7 linked regions of the Homo sapiens genome follow. The protein of the gene in region 5 purifies or fractionates together with the protein of the main gene of each other region. This does not show direct contact. Each region holds a gene or a part of one and is shown on either strand. Other genes may lie near its edges. The genes, in order: PGAM5, PDE4DIP, YBX1, PI4KB, DNAJC10, AKAP9 and NOTCH3.

Evidence for each region.
Region 1: the proteins of DNAJC10 (region 5) and PGAM5 fractionate together in Homo sapiens (co-fractionation; one large-scale study listed by BioGRID). This does not show direct contact.
Region 2: the proteins of DNAJC10 (region 5) and PDE4DIP purify together in Homo sapiens (co-immunoprecipitation; 2 studies listed by BioGRID and IntAct, with this or other methods). This does not show direct contact.
Region 3: the proteins of DNAJC10 (region 5) and YBX1 purify together in Homo sapiens (co-immunoprecipitation; one large-scale study listed by IntAct). This does not show direct contact.
Region 4: the proteins of DNAJC10 (region 5) and PI4KB purify together in Homo sapiens (affinity purification with mass spectrometry; 2 studies listed by BioGRID and IntAct, with this or other methods). This does not show direct contact.
Region 6: the proteins of DNAJC10 (region 5) and AKAP9 purify together in Homo sapiens (affinity purification with mass spectrometry; 2 studies listed by BioGRID and IntAct, with this or other methods). This does not show direct contact.
Region 7: the proteins of DNAJC10 (region 5) and NOTCH3 purify together in Homo sapiens (affinity purification with mass spectrometry; 2 studies listed by BioGRID and IntAct, with this or other methods). This does not show direct contact.

Annotation. Positions count from the first base shown.
Region 1 is NC_000012.12:132,717,342-132,720,841, reverse strand, and holds part of PGAM5 (serine/threonine-protein phosphatase PGAM5, mitochondrial), read right to left. Parts: intron 3,404-3,500; coding exon 3,278-3,403; intron 3,133-3,277; coding exon 3,044-3,132; intron 2,856-3,043; coding exon 2,722-2,855; intron 2,081-2,721; coding exon of another isoform or gene 2,032-2,080; exon of another isoform or gene 1,675-2,031; intron 165-1,674; coding exon 14-164; 3' UTR 1-13. UniProt on the Homo sapiens protein: Mitochondrial serine/threonine phosphatase that dephosphorylates various substrates and thus plays a role in different biological processes including cellular senescence or mitophagy. Modulates cellular senescence by regulating mitochondrial dynamics.
Region 2 is NC_000001.11:148,850,928-148,854,427, reverse strand, and holds part of PDE4DIP (myomegalin), read right to left. Parts: intron 1-3,500. UniProt on the Homo sapiens protein: Functions as an anchor sequestering components of the cAMP-dependent pathway to Golgi and/or centrosomes.
Region 3 is NC_000001.11:42,701,862-42,704,305, reverse strand, and holds the end of YBX1 (Y-box-binding protein 1), read right to left. Parts: intron 2,326-2,444; 3' UTR 501-2,325; downstream 1-500. UniProt on the Homo sapiens protein: DNA- and RNA-binding protein involved in various processes, such as translational repression, RNA stabilization, mRNA splicing, DNA repair and transcription regulation.
Region 4 is NC_000001.11:151,303,417-151,306,916, forward strand, and holds part of PI4KB (phosphatidylinositol 4-kinase beta), read right to left. Parts: intron 2,948-3,500; coding exon 2,720-2,947; intron 235-2,719; coding exon 125-234; intron 1-124. UniProt on the Homo sapiens protein: Phosphorylates phosphatidylinositol (PI) in the first committed step in the production of the second messenger inositol-1,4,5,-trisphosphate (PIP). May regulate Golgi disintegration/reorganization during mitosis, possibly via its phosphorylation.
Region 5 is NC_000002.12:182,789,257-182,792,110, forward strand, and holds part of DNAJC10 (dnaJ homolog subfamily C member 10 isoform 1 precursor), read left to right. Parts: 3' UTR 1-2,854. UniProt on the Homo sapiens protein: Endoplasmic reticulum disulfide reductase involved both in the correct folding of proteins and degradation of misfolded proteins.
Region 6 is NC_000007.14:92,108,018-92,111,173, reverse strand, and holds the end of AKAP9 (A-kinase anchor protein 9), read right to left. Parts: intron 2,681-3,156; coding exon 2,541-2,680; intron 1,053-2,540; coding exon 1,015-1,052; 3' UTR 501-1,014; downstream 1-500. UniProt on the Homo sapiens protein: Scaffolding protein that assembles several protein kinases and phosphatases on the centrosome and Golgi apparatus. Required to maintain the integrity of the Golgi apparatus. Required for microtubule nucleation at the cis-side of the Golgi apparatus.
Region 7 is NC_000019.10:15,187,496-15,190,995, forward strand, and holds part of NOTCH3 (neurogenic locus notch homolog protein 3 precursor), read right to left. Parts: intron 1,934-3,500; coding exon 1,778-1,933; intron 1,680-1,777; coding exon 1,494-1,679; intron 854-1,493; coding exon 740-853; intron 500-739; coding exon 386-499; intron 1-385. UniProt on the Homo sapiens protein: Functions as a receptor for membrane-bound ligands Jagged1, Jagged2 and Delta1 to regulate cell-fate determination.

The sequences.
Region 1 (3,500 bases), on a different chromosome or scaffold from region 5:
GAGGCCGGAGCCCTCAGGATCGAGTGATCTTGTCGGGAGGCATGAACCCCGTGTCCCCGAGGGTCCTGAGCGCAACTCGGCCGTTGGGTCGGATCACCAGGTGGGTGATGCTGCCATTATTGAGGGAGAGCCGGAGCCAGCCTTCAGGAGGAAACTGCAGTGCTCTGGGGAGAGAGAGAGAGAGAGAAAGAGCACGTTAGAGCCAGGGGGCTCTGTCCTTAAAACGGGCTGAGCTAGGCCGGGCATGGTGGCTCACACCTGTAATCCCAGCACTTTGGGAGGCCAGGCGGGTGGATCACAAGGTCAGGAGATCGAGACCATCCCAGCTAACACGGTGAAACCCCATCTCTACTAAAAATACAAAAAATTAGCTGGGCGTGATAGCAGGCACCTGTAGTCCCAGCTACTTGGGAGGCTGAGGCAGAAGAATGGCGTGAACCCGGGAGGCGGAGCTTGCAGTGAGCTGAGATCGCGCCACTGCACTCCAGCCTGGGTGACAGAGCGAGATTCTGTCTAAAAAAAAAAAAACGGGCTGGGCTAGAGCCAGGGGACTCTGTCCTTAAAAGAGGCTGGGCCAGGCTGTGCCAGGGGGCTCTGTTCTACAAACAGAGGCTGAGCCCCTCAGAAGTCTCAGAGCAGCCTCAGGGCCGGGGTACACATCAGCCGAGCCGCTCCTGTCTTCAGTCGGGGCTTCTCGGGGAAGATCTGGCTGGGATCGACGTGAATCGATGACTGGGATCGACATGAATGGAGCCATCACACTTGGGGACCTGCCCTCTTTAGGACAGGGGCCCAACCCCAACTCAAGATTTGCACAGATCAGAACAACGCTGACTTCTTACGAGGAAACACAGTTTAATTTCTGCTTTTCCCATATAAAAGCAGGGAGCAGCCAGTTAGTGCAACAGGTCCCTTTCTGGGAAAGCAAAGAACGGAGATGGGATCTACCCGCCGTGGCATCTTCATGCACTTCTTAGGCACAATTCGCATTTGCGGAAAAGCTCGGAGTTGCCTTCATCGCCTCTGAGCCACCCACCGCCCTGTCTCAGTGGGCCGCATGGCCACCCTCACGCTGCTTCCCGAGCCTCCTCAGGGCTGCCTGGCGGCACCGGCCGGAACAGCACAGCCATATTCTCGTGTCCAGGTGCACGTGCCTGGCCCTCACCACTGTGTGGACTCAGGTCGGCTCCACTCTCCCGCCCCGGTTATTTCTGTGCATTTTTAGCATTTGTGTCACCTCGGGGTGACTGTGTCATGGACACACAAGGTGGTGGTGGCAGCATAGAAGCCACCCATATGGCTCATTCACAAGCACAGACAGGAGGCAACGAACGACTCACAGCAAACAGGTACTCACTTAGCCTGAGGCCACACCACCCGGAGGCTCCAACCCCCAGAAAAGCTCTATCTGGTCTGGAGCCAAGCTTGAGAATCTCGGCCCGTACATCCTCGACTTTCTGGGAGCTGCTGCTCTTGACCATGGTGCTCCCAGCAGCCCCAGCCCTGGTGACAGGCCCAGGTGACAGACGGGCAGAGACCAGGGCCCAGCCTCACACGGCATCACTGACCAGTGCCGTCCTGTCCTCCCACCACAGGACTCGTCACACTCAAGAGGGCCCCCTCAGCTGCGGAGCCCACACACACATTTCCTAATGGATCCAGAGAAGAGGCAAATTTGTTTCAAATTTGCATTTAGTGAGATTTGGCCAACCCTTCTGACTGTTTCAGGCATGTAACCGTAGAGCTGGCCCTGCCCCCCAAGGGGCCCTCTAACGTGGCTGCAGCCCTGGAGCTCCTTAAAGAAGTGGCTGATTGCAGGGTGGTGGCAGGGAAAACGCAACCTGAACCCGGATCATTCTGTGGTGCTGAGAGTGGGGCACCAGAGCAGGTTGAGGGACAAGGGCCCCCCGAGGGAGCAGCCCGAGCAGCAACGTGACTCAGCTGTGGCCTCGACCCAGAGGGGAGCGGACACCCCGAGCCGTCACGCTGGCACACGGGTGGGAGCGCCCACAGATCAGCAAGTGAAAGAGGTCAGGACCCCAGAAGCACAAAATCCCCAGCGGACAACAGCGGCGGGATGCTGCCAGTGGGATCCAGCCGGAGGCAGAAGGTGGTTGGTCGAGTTTGAGGGGAAACAGGACGTTCAATTACAAAGGGAAAACAACCAGGGCAGTGCGGACGCCCAGCATGCACCGTACCCAGGACCCCCCACCCAGCACGCACCCCACCCAGGACACCCCCACCCAGCACGCACCCCACCCAGGACCCCCCACCCAGCACGCACCCCACCCAGGACACCCCCACCCAGCACGCACCCCACCCAGGACACCCCCACCCAGCACGCACCCCACCCAGGACACCCCCACCCAGCACGCACCCCACCCAGGACCCCCCACCCAGCACACACCCCACCCAGGACACCCCCACCCAGCACGCACCCCACTCAGGACCCCCCACCCAGCACGCACCCCACCCAGGACACCACAGGGGTCCCTCCCTGTCTGCACCACCCTTGCCCAAAACAGCCTTATGAGAAGCTCCAAGTAACACGCCACCTACCGCGTAACTGACTAGGACTCGCGGGAAGTGGACGCCCGGGGGCTGGTGAGGCCTGACTAGGGTGGCATCGGCAGTGGAGGAGGGTCTCGCTCGGCTTCTTCCTCATGCTTTTCTCTAAGTCTGAAATTATTTTAGACCACGCCCAGCCCAGCAGCTGCCTACCTGCACACGATGTAGCGGATGACGTTGGCGTGACAGATGAAGATCTCGTAACTGTCCTCCTCCTGCCTGGCATCTGCGCGGTGGATGTAGTTCCGGAAGGCGGCCTCGATCCGGGCTCCGTCTTCGTAATACTGCTGGGGGCAGAGTGAGGAGCCGTCAGTGCGGAAGTGCTCGGGCAGGGCGGGTGTCAGGAGGACAGACCCCATCGCCGCCCGGGGAAGCCCGTGGGACGGCCGGGCACGTGGTGGATGGTGAGCCCAGCAGGGCCGCTTTGCCCAGGGAAGGCGAGGGTGACACAGCTGCCCCCCGGGGAGGTTTTTACCACAGCTTCCGGCTTCCAATGAGACACGGGCGGGTCTGGCTCGATGGGGGCGCCTTCCCGCAGCAGATCTGTGCTGACTTTGCAGACGCCTGCAGAGAAGCACAGCGAAGCGCTGGGTGAGGCGGCCCCGCCGGCGGAGATGCTGTGACCTCCCGGTGGCCAGGAGCTCAGGCCGGGGCCCTGCCACGAGCCGCCCACTGCTGCAAGCATGGAGGCCCCGCGCGCAGCACTCACCTGGCAGGTGCCGGCTGATGATATCGGTGGTCTCTATGGCGCGCGTCATAGACGAATGGACGATTTTATTAAACTTCAACCCCAAGCTTGCCAGGCGGAGCCCAGTGAGTTCAGCCTGCTCCCGACCTGGAAGGTGAAAGGCACCTGAGTGCCGCACCTGCACCCCCTCCTCCACCCTCAAACACCCCCTCCTCCGCCCGCAAACACGCCCTCCTCCACCCTC
Region 2 (3,500 bases), on a different chromosome or scaffold from region 5:
GGATTTTAAAATAAAATTGACTAAGGGTTACCAAGCCGGGAGATGGTTAAGGCAGTTAGAGATTCTAAAGCAGCGTTGAGAACACGATTCAAAGAGCTGACTCTGACGTCTAGGTTCAGTATGGAGGTGAATAAACAGCAGATGGCCTGGAAGATACAGAGAGTTGAGGAACTGGAATACATGACGCAGTAAACAACATTCAGAAAGAATGAGGAAGTGGGGGACTTGACCTGTGGTCAAGAAGTATAATTTCAGCATTAAGGATCCTAAGGGTGGAAAATCTGGAAGAAAGATGAGCTACAAAAGATGGCTGTGCTGATAGCATACTGAAGTGAATTCGAGTTAAGGCTATGTCAGGTCAAGGTATAACAGTGATGTATGTCCATGCCTAGTGACCCCTCTAGAATGTCAGTCTCTGGAAGGGAGGGTTTTTAGATCATTCACTATCATCTGTCCAGCATTAAAGAAGTCTAGATCATAGGAATTGGATGCGTATTTCTTTTTTTTTTCTTTTCCCGTAACTGAGGAAACAAGACACATATTTCTTAAACAATGATAAATACAATCTGAATGTATAATGGTGTCAAGTTTGATAACCTGTTGTATCCATTCTACAATAAGGAGACACCCACCAAACAGATATTCCCATCGGCCTTTTGGGGAATGTTCTCTGGAAAGCTCTTAATAGATGACCTTCTAAGTGCTAGAGGCAATGTTAGATGCTGAAGACTTATAGACAAAAACGTTTCATTCTGCCGATAAACTTGGAGTATGGAAAATATCAAGTTAACCAACTAGCTACATGCTACAACAGAGTAGGCAGAGCGTGTTCTGGCTACACCCAGATCTAGGTTCTAAAAATAATTCCTAAAGGAGGTACTTCTGAATCTAACCTCTGAAGGGTATACAAATTTATCCCAGCAAAGGCAAGGCTAGATGTGTAGGTGGGAACAACTGGTATATTAAGGCCCACTCATAATAATTTTAGCTCAGGGTAAATTAAGTCGCAATGACTCTCCAACCAGCTCCCCGGGTCTGCTGGCAATAATGCTGCTCCTGTGGTGCCAATAACCTGAAAATCTCCAAGTAATACAAGAAAGTTATACACAGAAAACCTCCAAGTGATACACAGAAAAACCTAAAACCAACTCAATTCCAAACTTTACATGTTGTCATTTGGTAGACACAAATGTGAACTTCTTCCTGCAATAAAAACCTATGTTGACTTAGTTTAAAAGCAGCATATAAAGGATGTTGCCCATAATCCCCTAACCAAACAAGGCATCTATTTTCTCTTTTCTCTGTCCTTGTAATAGACATCCTAATAGGTATACATAGTTTTGATGTAATTTACATCTATCTTTTACTTTCTTATGTTAAAATTTTCTGTTTATTATCATTTCAGGAAACGTTTCAGGATAGTAATAGAGATTAACAGCAACAGTGAAGCATTTTACCCTAGAGAAGGGTAAAAGTTGGAAATGTTGCTATTGATTCACCTAGGTTATGCCACTTTAATGTCAGTGTGCCTCAGTTTCCCCCTTTACAATACAGGGATTCAGGTCTTGAAAAAGATATTTAAATTGAATGCAATATCTTTCTTATGGGACTATAACTTTAAGTAATTTGCAATGTACTTTCAAGAACTGGAAATGTTGACATAGTTATTCTACTTCTGAACATCTCTCATTCAAAAAATAATGCTGTGGAAGAAGATGCTTTATGCACCTAGACATTTATCAAGTATTATTTATAATAGTTAAAAATTGGAAGTCTACATCCTTTGGGTTAGGCGTAATGATTTAAAAGACACTGTAAATCCACAGCATGTTATTCTACATTATGAATGATAATATACCACATTATGAAGTGGAAAATAAATTCATTCTTAAATTGTGTGAAATGCTAGAAATTATTCAATTTTCTTTGTGAGTCAATGCTTTCTAGTTTTTTTTTTTTTTTTTTTTTTTTTTTTTTTTCCGACAAAGTCTTGCTCTGTCACCCAGGCTGGAGTGCAGTGGTGTGATCTCGGCTCACTGCAACCTCCACTTCCTGGGTTCAAGCAATTCTCATTCCTCGGTCTCCCGATTAGCTGGGATTACAGGCACCCCCCACCATGCCCACTAATTTTTGTATCTTTAGTAGAGATGGGGTTTCAACATGTTGGCCAGGCTGGTCTCGAACTCCTGACCTCAAGTGATCCTCCTGCCTTGGCCTCCCAAAGTGCTGGGATTACAGGCGAGAGCCACTGTGCCTGGCCAGTGAATGCTTTCTATATGTCAGAAGTTATTGCTTCTTTCCACCCTTTCCACCATGACCATGATAAGAAGACACTAGTTGCAAGTTACCTCTTCCCTCACTGGCCTTGGAAAAGACAAGAAAGAAAGACGTTTCTGTGGAATGTAACAAGCAGAAAAGGACTGAAGATAATGAGACAGATTAAGGAAAGATGAATCACAGGCTGTGAAAGTGCTATGAAAATAAAACAGTATTATTATACAATTTATTATAAATAGTCTATGACTAATTTAGCACTTTAGCCATAAGCGTTCAGAAAAAAGAAATTCAGATCATGCTTGTCTTGCTGGCCACAGAACTCAGAAAATGCTCTGAGGCAGAGGAAAACAAGTCCTCAGTGCATTTGAGTGTTTTAAAATAGAATCACATAGAGCCACCTTGGGTCAATATGACATCTCTTGTATTCTGGACTTTCTTCTAACTTTAAATGCTATTTGAATTTTTGCCAGAGACAGCTTGTGGAATGTTCTGAGCCCAGTTTGGAATTTTATTTATAAAATGGGGTAGATTTCAATAGAAGTAGTGTCCTGGGGCATCCACTGAATGGATGGATGCTCCACTTAGCCTTGAAAATATGATCCCTCAGCCACAGTCAGGCGAGCCTCCCAGGATGGGGACGGCACCATGAGGTGTTACTTATCCTTTCTGAGACAAAAACAACCCCTTCCCAGTCTTTAGGTATTTTAAACATAGTCTTAGCATGTAGCTGAAAAAATGGGGGTTGGGGGAGTCAGGTCCAGACTGATCTAGTGTGTGGAAAATAAGCAAGTAGGAGTGAAAGCATTGATTCTGGCAAATTCCCCAAGCCGAAATCCAAGTATAGGCCCATTTAAAAGTAGACTGGAGTTGCCAAGGCAGAATTTCCTTCTTAAAATTCAGATAATTAGTTGCTAGCAGTGCTGAATATTAAACAGGAAATTCAACTTCCAAAGATGTTTCAATAATAGAATTCTGAAAACAAGCATTTTCCTAATATGAAGTGTTACATGCAAAGCACCAGCACCATAATAAGTAAAGGTACTGGAATTAACTAGGCCTTCATACAACACATACTAGTTGTGTGAATGCCAGCAAATCATTTAACCACTTTAACCTCAGTGGCCATATATCTCTGGTTGTAACTATGTCTTTGTAAACAGGACTCTCTACTAACTCACCATAAATTCAGAGAAAAATAAATGTCCCTGATTCCTCTAGGCTAA
Region 3 (2,444 bases), on a different chromosome or scaffold from region 5:
CCAGGCTCAGTGTCACCATCTAGGTGAGGCAGATAGGAGGAAACCATTGCTGCTGCAGCATCACCAAAGCACAGCGACTACCCTCGCTAGCAAAAGGAGTTTGCATAGCTTCCTAGCAATGTCTCCAGGTCTCATGTTGGTGTATCTGATTGGCAGAACAGGTTCTAAACCTTGATCTTGGCTGCAAGTTTTCTGGGTAGTTTTTGAGATGTATAGCCTCTGTAGTCCTTACAAATAATCCGTAAGTACACAAAATACTGGGCAACAGAACAGGAGACAGTATCTAAAAACATGTACGTAGTTCTGTTTCCAACACTAGCACCTAAGATTGTATTCCCCCAAACAACTGTCCTCCTCAATGTGTTTTCGAGAATCTCATTCTAACATTATTGGATGTTTAACCAATGTTTTTGGTCTTCCCATTTCCATGATATCCTAATACAGATGCTCTTCAATTTATGATGGGTCAATGTCCCCATAAACCACAAGTCAGAAAATCATTAAGTTGAAACTGCATTTAATGTTGGCAACACTGCAGTCAACTTACAATGGTTTCATTTATGATTTTTCAACTCTGTGATGCCATGAAAACAATGTTGATTCAGTAGAAACCGTAACCCCACTAAAAGCCCCTAAGTCAAACCACTGTTTAAGTCAGGGACTGTGTGCGTCTGCAGTTGTAAGTAACAGTTTAGATGCTACCAACAGTTGAAGTTTCAGGTCCACTGCACTCTTGCCAACACAGTATTTTCATGAACACCAGCAAGAAATAGGCTAACTCACTTCTGCAGTACAGATATTTACACTAAGTAGGGTTAAAAAAATTTTTTTTGAGTAGTCTCTTATCAAGTCCTCTGCAAAGAGTTAGTCCCAAGCAGGAGATGACTTCCACAGCACTGCAGGATTCCTGATGTGCCACTCTGGCCTACTCCCGACCCCTACTGTCTGCTTCCCCTGGGCCCTGATAGCTGGCCAGGATGATCTGGAGTGTTTCGGGGCAGCAGTCACTATCAACTACATGACTATTTCACAAAGCAAGCCAAAGAACATCTAACAAAACATTAGAAAACAAAAGCCAGAGAGGCCAGGTGCGGTGGCTCACACCTGTAATCCCAGCACTTTGGGAGGCTGAGGCGGGCGGATCACAAGGTCAAGAGATCAAGACCATCCTGGCTAACACAGTGCAACCCCATCTCTATTAAAAATACAAAAATTAGCTGGGTGTGGTGGCACGCACCTGTACTCCCAGCTACTAAGGTGGCCGAGGCAGGAGAATCGCTTAAACCTAGAGGTGGAGGTTGCAGTGAGCCAAGATTGTGCCACTGTACTCCAGCCTGATGACAGAACAAGACTCCGTCTCAAAAAGAGAAAAGATCAGCCAGACTAGGCTTAGGATTTAAGGTGTTGAGAACCACATAATTACAAGCTCACCAACCTCCATGTTCCTAAGCAGCTTTCCCATGGGTTTTATATTACTTGTTTCCATCTCTAGGACATAAGGAGCTGAACCAATATTTGATGACCACACCAGGCAGTGTGACAGGTTGTCCTAACACTTCAATTGGCATCTTCAATTGACACACTGAAACAAATTCTCCCAAGGTGACAAAACTAAGTGGAGCAGGATGAGAGTCTGGTCGGTCTAGGCTAGAGCAATGCCCTTTTAAACAATGCCTCACAGCCAAAGGGACCCACCCAAAATCTACACTCAAGTCTTTCTTACAAATGAGCTAAATCCTTCAATGAAAAATGGCCAGGTTATCAGAGTATGTATTTTCTAATTTTTAGTATGGGCCCACAGGCATGCCACTTAAAGGATTAGAGATTTTGAGACATTTTACCTGAGGGAATTACCAGTGAGCATCATCTATTTGTAGACTGGGTCAAGCTAAGGGTCCTATAAATAGCTAAATACTTACAAACTAAAGCAAAACTAGACAAATTTACACAAAGACAATTATTTAAGACCTTTATTAACAGGTGCTTGCAGTTTGTTGACTTTTTTGAAAAAATCAAGTTGTAAACTTTTATTACAAATTAAAAATGAAGTTCTTAAAAATCTCAACTTGACCAGATATGAAACAATTTAAAAACCTTTAAAGGCGTATTGAGAAAAACCAGGCTTTTTTAAAAAACACGTTTGTTATTACCAAAAAGAGACGTCTTTAGGTAAAAATAATAAAAACCCCATGCTGCATAGATAATGCAGATAGTTCTATTTATCTGGTCAACGGGCAAAAAGCAAGCACTTTAGGTCTTCAGCTCCAATCTTTTGTTCATTTCTTATTGCTGGAATTTCATATTTCTTCTTGTTGGATGACTAAACTGTAAAGAAAAAAATAAAGATGATCATGTAGAATTCATGGTGATCTTCATTTAGTGTAGTACATGCCCTAGTTTACATTACTTGTGTATTGGGAGACATTAACAGATCTCTTGCCATC
Region 4 (3,500 bases), on a different chromosome or scaffold from region 5:
CAGAATGAAAGAGGGAAAGACACAGGCCAACAACAGATGATTGAGATGGAGAGGAAGGTAACAAAGAGATGGGAAGTTCCTGAAAGAGGGATGAAAAATGAGGGGCAATGTGATCTGGCCATACCGGATGTCCCCTGCTGCAATGAACACAGGCTCCTTGCTCTCCTGGCTGGTGATGCTGTCCACAGAGAACTGGGAGATGTTGTCACAGCTGTTGGTATGCACTTCGGGGAGCTGGAGAAAGGGGAGTGCTGGTCAGAAGTGCTAAAGTATAGGTCTCCCGTCTTTCCCCTCCTGCTTGCTTGCTATCACTGCAGCATGCTCATCCCTCTCTTTCAAACTCTGCTTACACACCATGTTGGTTACTGGGACCCCAGGCTGCCCAGAGCAGCATTTCTCAACATGTGAACTACCTGCAGTAGAATTACCCAGAATGCAGATTCCCAGGCCCCACCATCAATCTGAATTATAATTACTAGGAATGGGATCTGAAAGTCTGAATTTTTAACAAGTTCTCCAGAAGACTTCCAATGCACTAAAGTTTGCAAACCACTGCCATGACCATTACAGGAGCTCAAAATTTCAGCCTCACTGAGAGTCCCCCAAGGATAGGGATGCGTTCTCCCCTAGGGTCCAAAGCAGACTCTTTGCAGACTAGCTTCTGACAGTTTCTTCAATCTAAGTCATTCAATCTTATCTTCTCATCTCTCTCTAAATACAGAATATTCTACCAGACCCCAAGGCCCATGTCAAGTCTCTTCTGTCCTTCATACCAGAGCATTTCTTCTCAACTCCATTTGTCACCTAGTACACACTGCTTTGTTGTATATCTAAATTTTTTTTTCTTAAATGTCTAATTTCTGCAATTGGACTATAAGCTCAAAGACAGAGATTCTGCCTTTTGGCAAAGTGAAACCTGGCTGTGTGTTTTTTTTTTTTTTTTTTAGACGGAGTTTCGCTCTTGTTGCCCACGCTGGAGTGCAATGGTGTGATCTCGGCTCACTGCGACCTCCGCCTCCCAGGTTCAAGCGATTCTCCTGCCTCAGCCTTCTGAGTAGCTGGGATTACAGGCGCGCGCCACCATGCCTGGCTAATTTTTTGTATTTTTAGTAGGAACGGGGTTTCACCATGTTAGTCAGGCTGTTCTTGAACTCCTGACCTCAGGTGATCTGCCCACCTCAGCCTCCCGAAGTGCTGGGATTGCAGGCGTGAGCCACCGCGCCTGGCCCTGGCTGTGTTTTTGTTTTGTTTTGTTTTAAGACAGAGTCTCACTCTGTCACCCAGGCTGGAGTGCAGTGCTGTGATCTCAGCTCCCTGCAGCCTCCGCCTCCCAGGTTCAAGTGATTCTTGTGCTTCAAGAATCACTTGCCTCCCGAGTAGCTGGGATTACAGGCATGTTCCACCACACCTGGCTTTTTTTTTTTTTTCTTTTGAGACGGAATTTTGCTTGTCACCCAGGCTGAAGTGCAGTGGCGTGATCTTGGTTCACTGCAACCTCCGCCTCCTGGGTTCGAATAATTCTACTGCCTCAGCCTCCCGATTAGCTGGGATTACAGGCACATGCCACCACGCCCGGCTAATTTTTGTATTTTTAGTGGAGACGGGGTTTCACCATGTTGGCCAGGCTGGTCTCGAACTCCTGACCTCAGGTGATCTGCTCGCCCTGTCCTCCCAAAGTGCTGGGATTACAGGCGTGCGCCACCGCACCCGGCATAATTTTTCTAGTTTTAGTGGAGATGGAGTTTCACCTTGTTGGCCAGGCTGGTCTCGAAATCCTGACTTCAAGCGATCCACCCACCTCGGCCTCCCAAAGTGTTGGGATTACAGGTGTGAGCCACTGCGCCTGGCCAGCTGTGTTAATAGCTCTACACAAAATTCTGCTCTGGCTCTTCATGCCCCAGAATAAAGTTCAAGTTTCTTTCCCCAGCTTACAGGGTCCTTCCTATAGTCTGGTCCATGCCCACGTGTCCAGTCTTATTCTTCACCACTTCTTACCTCACACCTGCACATCACAGCCAGGCAAAATTTCTTTCAATTCCTATAATGGCCCAAGCTCCCTCTTGTCTTCTGGCCTTTGCATGCAGTGTTCCCTCTGTCCAGCACTCTTTGTCCAGCTAATTCCTACCCATGCTTCCAGCCTCAGCTGAGAGATTACTTCCTCCAGGAAATCTCTTGTGATGCCCGCCCCAAGTCTGGTGCTCTTATAATGTCCTATCCTTTCCCCCATGACTTGACTCTCACCACACTACAACTACTTGCTTACTGGCCTTGTTCTCTTTCCAGTTAGGTCATAAATCCCTTGTAGGCAGGGGCCAAGTCTTGTTCACTAGCATACAGCACTCAGGTCTGGCACATAGAAGGCCCTCAATAAAAATTTCTTGAATGAATTAATGTATGACTTCTCATCCTCTGCTATTCTATGACAACTTTATGTAGGTGTTCAATAAATATTTTCATTAAATTTCCCTCACTCCCCTTGGCCTAGAAGCTCCTCTTTACATTTAAATCTGAATCCTTCACCTGGAAAATGAACTCCACCTGAATCTATTCCAGGCTAGAGTTGTTCAGAGCTTTCCCCATATTACCCCTCACTACCTACACCACTCATTAGGATACTTGCCTTACCCTGCCTTGGGATATGCTGTCTTGTTTCCAATATAGTGAAAGCTCCTGGAGAAAGCTCCTGTGACCCAGCATTACCTCCCTGAAGCCCTCTCACCTCCACTTGCAGCTCGCCTATGTCATCCACCGACCAGGCCTCATCATCGTTGTCATAGTTGGGCACAGTGCTGAAGCTGCCAGCTCGCTGCTCATGGGTAATACCACATTCGGGCAAGTTTTCTACGGACCTCGTACTCCGAATTCGGTTCTCGGGGATCCGGGCAGGGACACTGGTGGTGTCAAAGTTTTCACATTCAAGGACTTCCACATAAATCAGGTAGGGAGCCTGGGGGAAGAGTGAGACAGTATTTGCAACTTACTTCCACCACTAACCCCCAAATCTCAACTCTGTTAGCAAGGTTCTTCCTGCTGTCCTTTCTCCTAGCTCCAGCCTTCATCCAATAGTCCTCTGAAACTATGAACACTATATTTAGGGCAGATACTTGTCCTATGATCACCTATGTAAAGAATTTGTGTGACAGAATCCTTAAGTCTTCAAAATATTTCAACTGAGCTCCAAAATGTACAGATGATGTGCTTGGGCCAAACCACTCTAGACTATCAATTACAGGCTGTAAGGGAGGCCTAGATGCCTCTGTGGGCTCGTCCTGAAGACAGGGCCCAGGGAGCTACAGTGGACAAAAAGACTGGGACAAAGCTGGGCACTGTCCCAAGGAGTGTCCCAAACTTCAGTATTTCCTTTGAAAGAAGAATATGGGCCGGGCGCGGTGGCTCACGCCTGTAATCCTAGCACTTTGGGGGGCCGAGGCGGGTGGATCATGAGGTCAGGAGTTCAAGACCAGCCTGGCCAAGATGGCGAAACCCCGTCGCTACTAAAA
Region 5 (2,854 bases):
TGTCCCCCTGGCTGGAGTGCAGTGGTGTGATCTCAGCTCACTGCAACCTCCACCTCCCAGGTTCAAGCGATTCTCCTGCCTCACCCTCCCAAGTAGCTGGGACTGCAGGCATGTGCCACCACGCTGGCTAATTTTTGTATGTTTAACGGAGACAAGGTTTTAGTGTGTTGGCCAGGCTGGTCTCGAACTCTTGACCTCAGGTGATCCGCCTGCCTTGGTCTCCCAAAGTGCTGGGATTACAGGCGTGAGCCACCGCACCCAGCCAATTTTCTTCCTTTTTAAGGCTGAATAATATTCAATTATATATACATTCTACATTTTGTTATTCGTCCGTTGATAGGCTGCCTTCACCCTTTGGCCATTGCAAATAATGCTGCTATAAACATGGGTGTACAAATATCAGAAACCCTGCTTTCAGTTCTTTCAGCTATATACCTAGAAGTGTAAGTCTATATCATAGTAATTCTATTTTTAATATGGGGGGACCTCCATACTGTTTTTCATAGCAGCTGCACCATTTTACATTCCCACCAATAGTGCACAAGAGTTCTGATTTTTCCACATCCTCACCAACACTCATTTTTTTTAAATAGTAGGTATCCCAATGAGTGTGCGTTCATATCCCATTGGAGTTTTGATTTGTACTTTTAGAGTCTTTAAATTATTACTTTTTCCATATCAAAGTACTTTGTGGGAAGTTGGTTATTTTACATTCTCATACCATGCTTTGTATTACTTTCCCATTTGGATGCCCTTTTCATCCTTCACCTCATCCTGTAAACCCAAAATCTAACTTAAATCCCAAATCCAACTTCCACTGTAAAGCCTTTGCTGACTTCTTTACTTCACATTGATTTCTGAATTTCTAAAAGTTCCTCATTGTCTACCACAAAACTAAGTATTTGTTTATAAGAAAAAGCTTTATTTAGTCCTATATTATTCTCTGATTATTCCATATGTTATCTTCCAAACTAGATTGTTAGGTCTTCAAGAGCAGAAGAAATTTATTTTATACTTATAAACTTCAAGATTTGCTGAAGTACTTTGGGTGCTAAATGCTTCTAGCTTATTCGTTTAGTTTACATGACTTTCTGCATGTGAAACTTGAGAAAACTGCAAATCTAATACCTTGGTCTTACAGAACTGAACAATACTTAAATGTGTTTAAACCTGCTATATAAAATGTCAGATGTAAAAGCGAATATCTAATGAAGCACCTTTTCCCTTTTCTAAAATTCAATAGTAAGGGCCAGGCACAGTGGCTCACACCTGAAATCCCAGCGCTTTGGGAGGCCGAGGCGGGTGGATCCCTTGAGGTTAAGAGTTCAAGACCAGCCTGGCCAACATGGTGAAACGCCGTCTCTACTAAAAATACAAAAAAAAATGGCCAGGCGTGGTGGTGCACGCCTGTAATCCCAGCTACTTGGGAGTCTGAGACAGGAAAATCGCTTGAACCCGGGAGGCAGAGGTTACAGTGAGCTGAGGTCACGTCACTGTACTCCAGCCTGGGCAACAAGAGTGAAACTCTATCTCAAAAAAAAAAAAAAAAATTACAATAGTAATAATTATGCCTTCTAACACTAAAATCAAATAACCTTACTTATCAGTTACATTGCCTACTAAGCTGACTTATTTTCTGACTTTTCCTTTGCTTTATTCTCTTATTTCTTCCAAGTAACCATATTCTCTTTTACCCTCCTGTTCAACTGTCTATGCTCCTTCTCTCTTTGTTCACTATTTTGATATTTAAATGTTATGACTTATTTTCAAGTAAATATTTTTTTAATTTCTTCATTTGGGATAAAATATTCACTACATAAATTTAGTGGATAAATACCCCCACAGAGATCGACCCTGCATGAAATGTGTTCCCTCAGAAGTAGGGCAATTCATTCATTATGAGATCAAGCCATAAAATTTAAATCCAAGCAGTAATTCTCCAATTAAAGTAACTCTAGAGCTTAGTTTTCAGTCCTCCTGAATCATAACTAGTTGGCAACAAAAACTAGTATGCCTTGGTGTGAATAAACCTTAACATAGAAACTCACCCAGCCTCAAAAGTTAAAAATTAAGAGAGATATGTATTCAGGTGGCCATTTATACACAATATTTTTGAATACTATTCTGGCCAAATTAGTATAAAATGGGTTACTCTAAAATGAAATTTTAAAAGTATATAAACATCTTAAACTTTAAAACTTCAGCCCAGCTAGAAGTCAACGTGTGTTTCTGAAACTATGCTGGGGAAAGTAGCTCTGTCCATAATGATTATATAGTTGTTAGCAAAATATTGGTCAAAACTTTTTCAGTTTAATGAGTTTCAAGATATTCTTCAAACTGGCCTCTGTGAACTCTTTCTTGACAAGTGAAACCTGGCTCCAACAATGACTACTTTATTCTACCTCTCATTTATTTTCTGTTTAATAAATCCAGTATTTGGGCATACAAACTGTATACAACATTTTATAACACTCTAATGTGGATAAGACACCTCAAAAACAGGAGTTTAGTCATTTCAGTCACATGTTTCTAATACATGATAAGATTTGCAGTTATCGTTTAATTAATTGCAATATGGAAATAGATACTAAAAAATCTAAATTGCATCTTACATTTCAACAATGGATGTTTAAAGCGTTTAAAAGTTATGTTTTGCATTTTACAACATATTGAAGATACACATTTTAAATTTAACTCTAAACAATGCAATAATCTAGAGAATCAGAGAATTGGATCCTGAAACACCTTATAAGTTCAGTCCTGTTGATTAGTATGTTTCCCTGTCCTAGAGTGCATGAACTTTCAAAGCCAGGACACAATCTTGTTCACTTTTCATGCCATCATCTTGACACTC
Region 6 (3,156 bases), on a different chromosome or scaffold from region 5:
GACAAAATCCTCCAGGTGTAAGCATCAAATACTAGTCCTCTTGCTGTTTTAGTGAGTTGCCATGTTATTGAGGAGGACTCCAGATGAGAAATAACATTGCGATCTGTATTATCTCTGTGAGAGCCTCCCAGTCTGAATTTGGCTTGGACAACAGGGATACTGTTTAATTCGGCTGCAATGTGATTAAGATCTTTTGAGTTAATGATTTCTTCATCTTTTTAGTGGGCCATGGATTTGTGAGAACACATCTTTGGAAACAAGTAACACTAACTGTAATATAGTAAATACTGATTAATCATGAAATACCAATATAGCTTTTAAAAAACACTATGTAGATGTAAAGTTGATACAAAGACACATGGAAAACTTTCAACAGTATTAACTCTAAGATTAGGACAACTTTCTCTGAATCTCTCACTCCTACATATTTGACATAAGTAATGAGATGCTATGTACCAAGAACTATGGCTCAGTTAAAAATGAAGAAGGTTCAAATACAGTGTGGTGAAAATGGTGAAGTCATTTTTATTTCAGTACTTGACAAAATACCCCATAAAATTCAAAACTTCTACCATTATACAAAAATAGGTCTCTACAAGTGATATTATCTGTCTTCATCACCAGTAGAATATATTAGGCAAAACATGTAACTTCAGTAGCCTTATAAGAAAAGTGCAGGACACCTCGAGCTACACATTCAGCAGTATTGTAATGCGTAAAAGTTTAATCTTTTCACCCATTTGATAAATACACAAGGTTTATAATTTAATGTTTTAAATTAGCATTCCACAAATATACAGGTAATTCAATAATTATTGTGCATGAATACATACACAATGCTTATATATACAAATTCCAGTTTGTTTTCATGTGCTGGCAAGGGATTTGTATACAATCATAAGCTGTGTTCATATTGGTCCCATTGAATATTCACAATACAAAAGCACAAAAGAACCATTGATTTACAAAAGGAAATCTATTTAAAATCACTTCAATTAATGATGTTTCAAAGGATTATCTTCTCATGCCAGCATGAAATTGAGTAGTTGAACCTATGAGAGAAAAACAGGAAATTCAACTGATTTCAAATTACATTGCTACCTGTATCAGACCCACCAGAGTTCACACAAAGGAAATTATTATTATTCTCCATTTTTTTAAAGCCCTTTTTTTCCTTAAAATGTCCTCTTCATACTTAAACTGAGTCTCTCCCCACTACCCCCAAGGTGGAGTGTTACTCTGTTGCCCAGGCTGGAATTCAGTGGTGTGATCTTGGCTCACTGCAACCCCCGCCTCCTGGGTTCAAGTGATTCTCCTGCCTCAGCCTCCTGAGTAGCTGGGACTATCCACACATGCCACCATGTCCAGCAAATTTTTGTATTTTTAGTGGAGACGGGGTTTCACCATGTTGGCCAGGCTAGTCTCGAACTGGTTGGTCTTGAACTCCTGACCTAGTGATCCGCCTGCCTCGGCCGCCCAAAGTGCTGGGATTACAGGCATGAGCCACCGCGCCCAGCCCATATACTTAAGCTGACTTTTAAGAGATTTTGAATATATATGTAAAAATCACCATGACTGGCTCTATGGCAAGGTAGGTGAGACTAATATTTAGAGTTTTTTTAAAGTGCTCTCAAAGTTGGATGTTCTATACCTCATACATTTTTGAAAAATCTTTTGGTCTTCAAAATCTGGGTCTTGTGAAATTTGGATGCTCAAAACAAAACAAGCCTAGGCAAACCAACAAACTCAGCTATGATAATAAAAGTTTCCTATTACTACAAGATGCTTGGGTGTAAACAAATGATTTCTTGAAGGAAGAGATAAACTACTCAATGATTCAAAGTCTCTGAATCAGGAGTGAACTGAAGTGAGATAGGGAAAAGAGGTTTTCCTTCCATGAACAGGGAATCCACCTTTATTTTAAAGTATGACTTGTTTTTTGTTTTTGAACAAAGAAAAAATAATCCTTACAAAGTATTTTAAATGGGATAGTTTTTTTCGATGATACATAAAAGCACAATATAGTAGCAGGGATAATGGTTACATTAAGTGCTTAAAGTAAGTGCTTCCTCCTTAACTCCACCCGATTTGCATGCCTTACCACTTTCTTTTTTTTTTTTTTTTCTTTGAGACAGGGTCTCGCTCTGCTGCCCAGGCTGGAGTGCTGCGGCACGGCCTTACCACTTTCTGCCATGCGCTACTTAGGAATACGTTCTCCAGTTAGGCTCTGTAGACTCAGAGTACCTTGCACACTGGTGCTCATTGTGCATTTTGTGTCATCAGTCCGCTGAATGAACATAGTAGGAAATCATTTTTGGGAGGAGTGGGATCTGGGGTGATAAATCATATTTTCACTTAAATTATTTAAAGTCAGTTTCTCTGCTGGTTACAAGAGTTTAAGCTTTGGCTAACTTAATAATTAGCTCATGCACTAAACTGGAAGCTTTGATTATCCTAATGAGTGTGAAAGAATTTCAAAGAAAGGGGAGCTGTGGGTCTCGCACTGTGGTGCTGCCAAGATGTGGTTAAACTCAGAGCACCTGACTGTATAGTTCCAAGTCGTCTTTGCAGTGCCTCTAGCCGAGTGATATAATCTGTTAGGGCTCTGTCAGGATCGTAATTCTGAAGCTGAGAACATGCTAAAGAACCAGGATTGAAATCAGCTGGAGTGCCTGGGTACCTAAAGGATTAAAAATATGTACATGAATCAAGTTATCCAGAAATATGCATATAAGTTACCAACCTGCCTCCACTCCCTTCCCCAAAAAGGTGGGTCACTTGTACACACATAATGTATCTCCTCCAAGCTTCAGCTTTGGAGCTTGGGATGAGAAAGAGACAACTCTCCAATGAATTCAAAGATGCTACTAAGTCAACATAAGAATGTCCAATACAATGCTTGTGGCAGAGGTCTCAATAAATTGGGTATGTATAAATGTATCTTGTCATGAAGACTGTTAAGCTTTTCATAATGATCAGAGTATCAATTTTAGTCAATACTTTTCCCAATATCTAACCATAGCATACACTAAATAACACTTGGTCAGCTTGTTTGCTATACCCTTGGAAATCAGTTACAAATTTAAACACTGGTTTTTACATTTTTACATTAAGCCTTAGGTTATGTATATTTTTTTTCTTTTTTTTTTTTTTTGG
Region 7 (3,500 bases), on a different chromosome or scaffold from region 5:
TTCCACTCCACCCCACTACAAGCTCCAGAATTTGTCCCTAGCCAAGACTCTCCCACAGTTAAATCCCGCCCCCAGCTGTGGCCCCACCTCCAGCCCTGTTTCTGCCCCACCCTCCACTGGAGATGGGAGCACATGGCAGGTGCCAGGGGAAGGTATTGGGCCCTCCCCATTCAGTTACAGGCACCCTGTGCCCAGCCCAACACTTTGGCTCCACACGTAGCCTTATGTCAGTCTATATGCATTATTGGCTCCACCCCCCAACTCTGTCACTGGGTCCTGCCTTGCTACAACCCCGCCCCCAAGCTCTCCCCAAGTCTGTTATTGGCCCTGTCGCCCACAAGCCCCGCCTCCTGATTCTTGTCGGACTGTCATTGGCCCGCCTCACCCTCGGCACAGCGGCACTCGTAGCCATCGGGCTGGTCCACGCATTTGGCGCCATTCCTGCAGGGCGTGCTGGCGCATTCGTCCACGTCCAGCTGACACGTGGAGCCGCTGAAGCCTGGGGTGGGGAGTGGGATGAGCAGAGGCCCAGAAAGGGTGAGAGCAGTACACCCCTCTCCAGCCCCGCCTTGTTTGGGTGGAAAAACCCATTTACTTGGATTTAAATTAACTTCAATGTTTCATAACATATGGTTTCTATTGTAAGTTATCCGCTAACGTGGTTTTACAGGTTCCCACCCTGGAGTTTTTGCCCCTTCCCAGACATGTCTTTTCGGGCTCCCTCTCCTGAGGTCCTCACCCGAGGGGCAGGTGCAGCTGAAGCCATTGACTCGGTCCTTGCAGACCCCACCGTTGACACAGGGGCTACTCTGACACTCGTCAATGTCCACCTCGCAATAGGTTCCTGTGAAGCCTGGGGCAGGGAATAGGGCTTAGGAAAGCGGGGGCTACCCTATGGTGTGAACGGGGTGCAAGGAAGGAGGTACTTCCCTTCCTACTCATCGACAAATCCCCCGAGCCTTCGTCCCCACCTCTACACTCCCAGCCCAACCTTAATTTTCAGCCACAGGCTGGACTGTCACCCAGCCGTGGTCCCAACTGGCCCAAGGCTCATGGGTGTCCGCAGAGGCCTTGCCTTCAAACCCCTCCTCCTCTCCCCAGTCCTCAGACTAAGCCCTTTCCCCAGTCCCCAGCCCCCAGCCCCAGGGCCCCCCATAGCCTTTGCCCAGGCTTACTGCAAGCTTGTCTGCAGGCTTCACCTTGACCTCACAGCAGCCCCGACTCTGCCTCTCTATCCCCAACCCCTTCCCGAGTGGGTCCTAAGGCCAAGAATACTCCCAGCCCACCTGAGGTTCTACTGACTCCATTTGACCAAGCCCCCAGAATCACACAGTATTCCCTTCTGGTCCTGACCCCACCTCCTTCCAGGCTTCAGTCTCTAAGGGTCCCACTCCAAACCCACTTACACCCCATTCTGCTCAGCTCCCCATCCGCGGGCTTCTCTGTCCCCGCCCCCTGCCTCAGGACCCGCCCAGGCCACGCCCACCACCCACCTGCCATACAGATACAGGTGAACTGGCCTATGCGGTCGAGGCACGTGGCCTGGTTTCGGCAGGGCCCCGACAGACACTCGTTGACATCGGTCTCACAGCGAGGTCCAGTGTAGCCACGACCGCACTGGCACAGGAAGGAGCCCTGCGTGTTCACGCACCTGCCCAAGTGCTCGCAGGGGTTGGCGCCTGCCGGATGGAGTGCGATCGGTGTGGGCGTGGCTGGCCGGGACCCCCTCCTCTCCCCTCTTTCCCAGCCCATTCACAGACGATGGAGCTCCCCTCACCGATAGAGCACTCGTCCACATCCTGGTCACATGCCCCACCCGTGAAGCCGGGAGGACAGGTGCAAATGGCCCGGCCGTTCACCGGATTTGTGTCACAGATAGCATCCTCGTGGCAGGGGTTGCTGACACAGGCGTCATCCAGGTGACACAGGAGGCCTGGGAAGTGGTAAGCAGAAGTCATAGGCAGATCTTCCTGCTCTGCCCAAAAGGCCCACACCCCTTGAGTATTGTTTTGTCGTTGTTGTTGTTTTGTTTTGTTTTTTGAGACGAAGTTTCGCTCTTGTTGCCCAAGCTGGAGTACAATAGCGCGATCTTGGCTCACTGTAACCTCCACCTCCCAGGTTCAAGCGATTCTCCTGCTCAGCCTCCCGAGTAGCTGGGATTACAGGCATGTGCCACCACGCCCGGCTAATTTTTTGTATTTTTAGTAGAAACGGGGTTTCACCAAGTTAGCCAGGTTGGTCTCAAACTCCTGACCTCAGGTGATCTGCCTGCCTCAGCCTCCCAAAGTGCTGGGATTACAGGCGTGAGCCACCGCGCCCGGCCTGTTGTTTTTATTAAACCTAAACAGTATTTAGTAGCTGCTTTTTTAATCCATTTATTATGAGAACTATCAAACATACAGAAAAGTTGACCATTCATATACCCACCACCTAGATTCAACTATTGTTAGCTTAATCTACCAATCTTCTTTTCTAAACCATTTAAAAATAAATTGCAGACCGGGCACAGTGGCTCACGTCTATAATCCTAGCACTTTGGGAGGCCAAGGTGAGTGCATCGCTTGAGTTCAAGAGTTCAAGACCAGCCTGGGCAATATAGTGAGACCCGTCTCTACAAAAAATACAAAGCTTAGCCGGGCATGGTGGCGCACGCCTGTAATCCCAGCTACTTGGGGGACTGAGGTGGGAGGATCACTTGAGCCCAGGAAGTCGAGGCTGCAGTGAGCTGAGATCATGCCACTGTACTCCAGCCTGGGTGACAAAGTGAGACTCTGTCTCAAAAATAAAATAAAATAAATTGCAAACATCCACATATTGTTTTAAAACCTTTTGACTCTTCTGATTACAAAAGGGTCCTACACTCCAGCCTTTGCTTCTGTAATACCCTCTGCCATGTATGCCCTCTTTCTATATCCACGTTCCCCTCCTAAACATGTTCTCTGATCTTTGCCACTTCCAAAGGTAACTCCCAGGAGTTCCCCATTCCAATGGCTTCTGCCCTGAGCCATGCATCAGTGCAATGTCAGCCTCCTCCCAAGCCTCTCCCAGGCTTACACTTCCCCACTAAAGCTGCCTCCAGCATCATCTTTTTTTCTCTCTCTTTTTTGTTATACACGGTCTTACACTGTCTCCCAGGCTGGAACGCAGTGGCTCAGTCTCAGCTCACTGCAACCTCCACCTTCTGGGCTCAAGCCATCCTTCAACCTTAGCATCCAGAGTAGCTGGGACTACAGGCATGCGCTACCATGCCCAGCTAATTTTTTGTATTTTTGGTAGAGATAGGGTTTTGCCATGTTGCCCAGGCTGGTCTCAAACTGCTGAGCTCAAGCAATCTACCCGCCTGGGCCTCCCAATGTGTTGGGGTTACAGGCGTGAGCCACCACACCCAGCCTACCAAGTTTTTGTAGAGATGACAAAAACTCACTATGTTGTCCAGGCTGGTCTCAAAGTCCTGGGCCCAAGCGATCCTCCCATCTTGGCCTCCCAAAGTGCTGGGATTA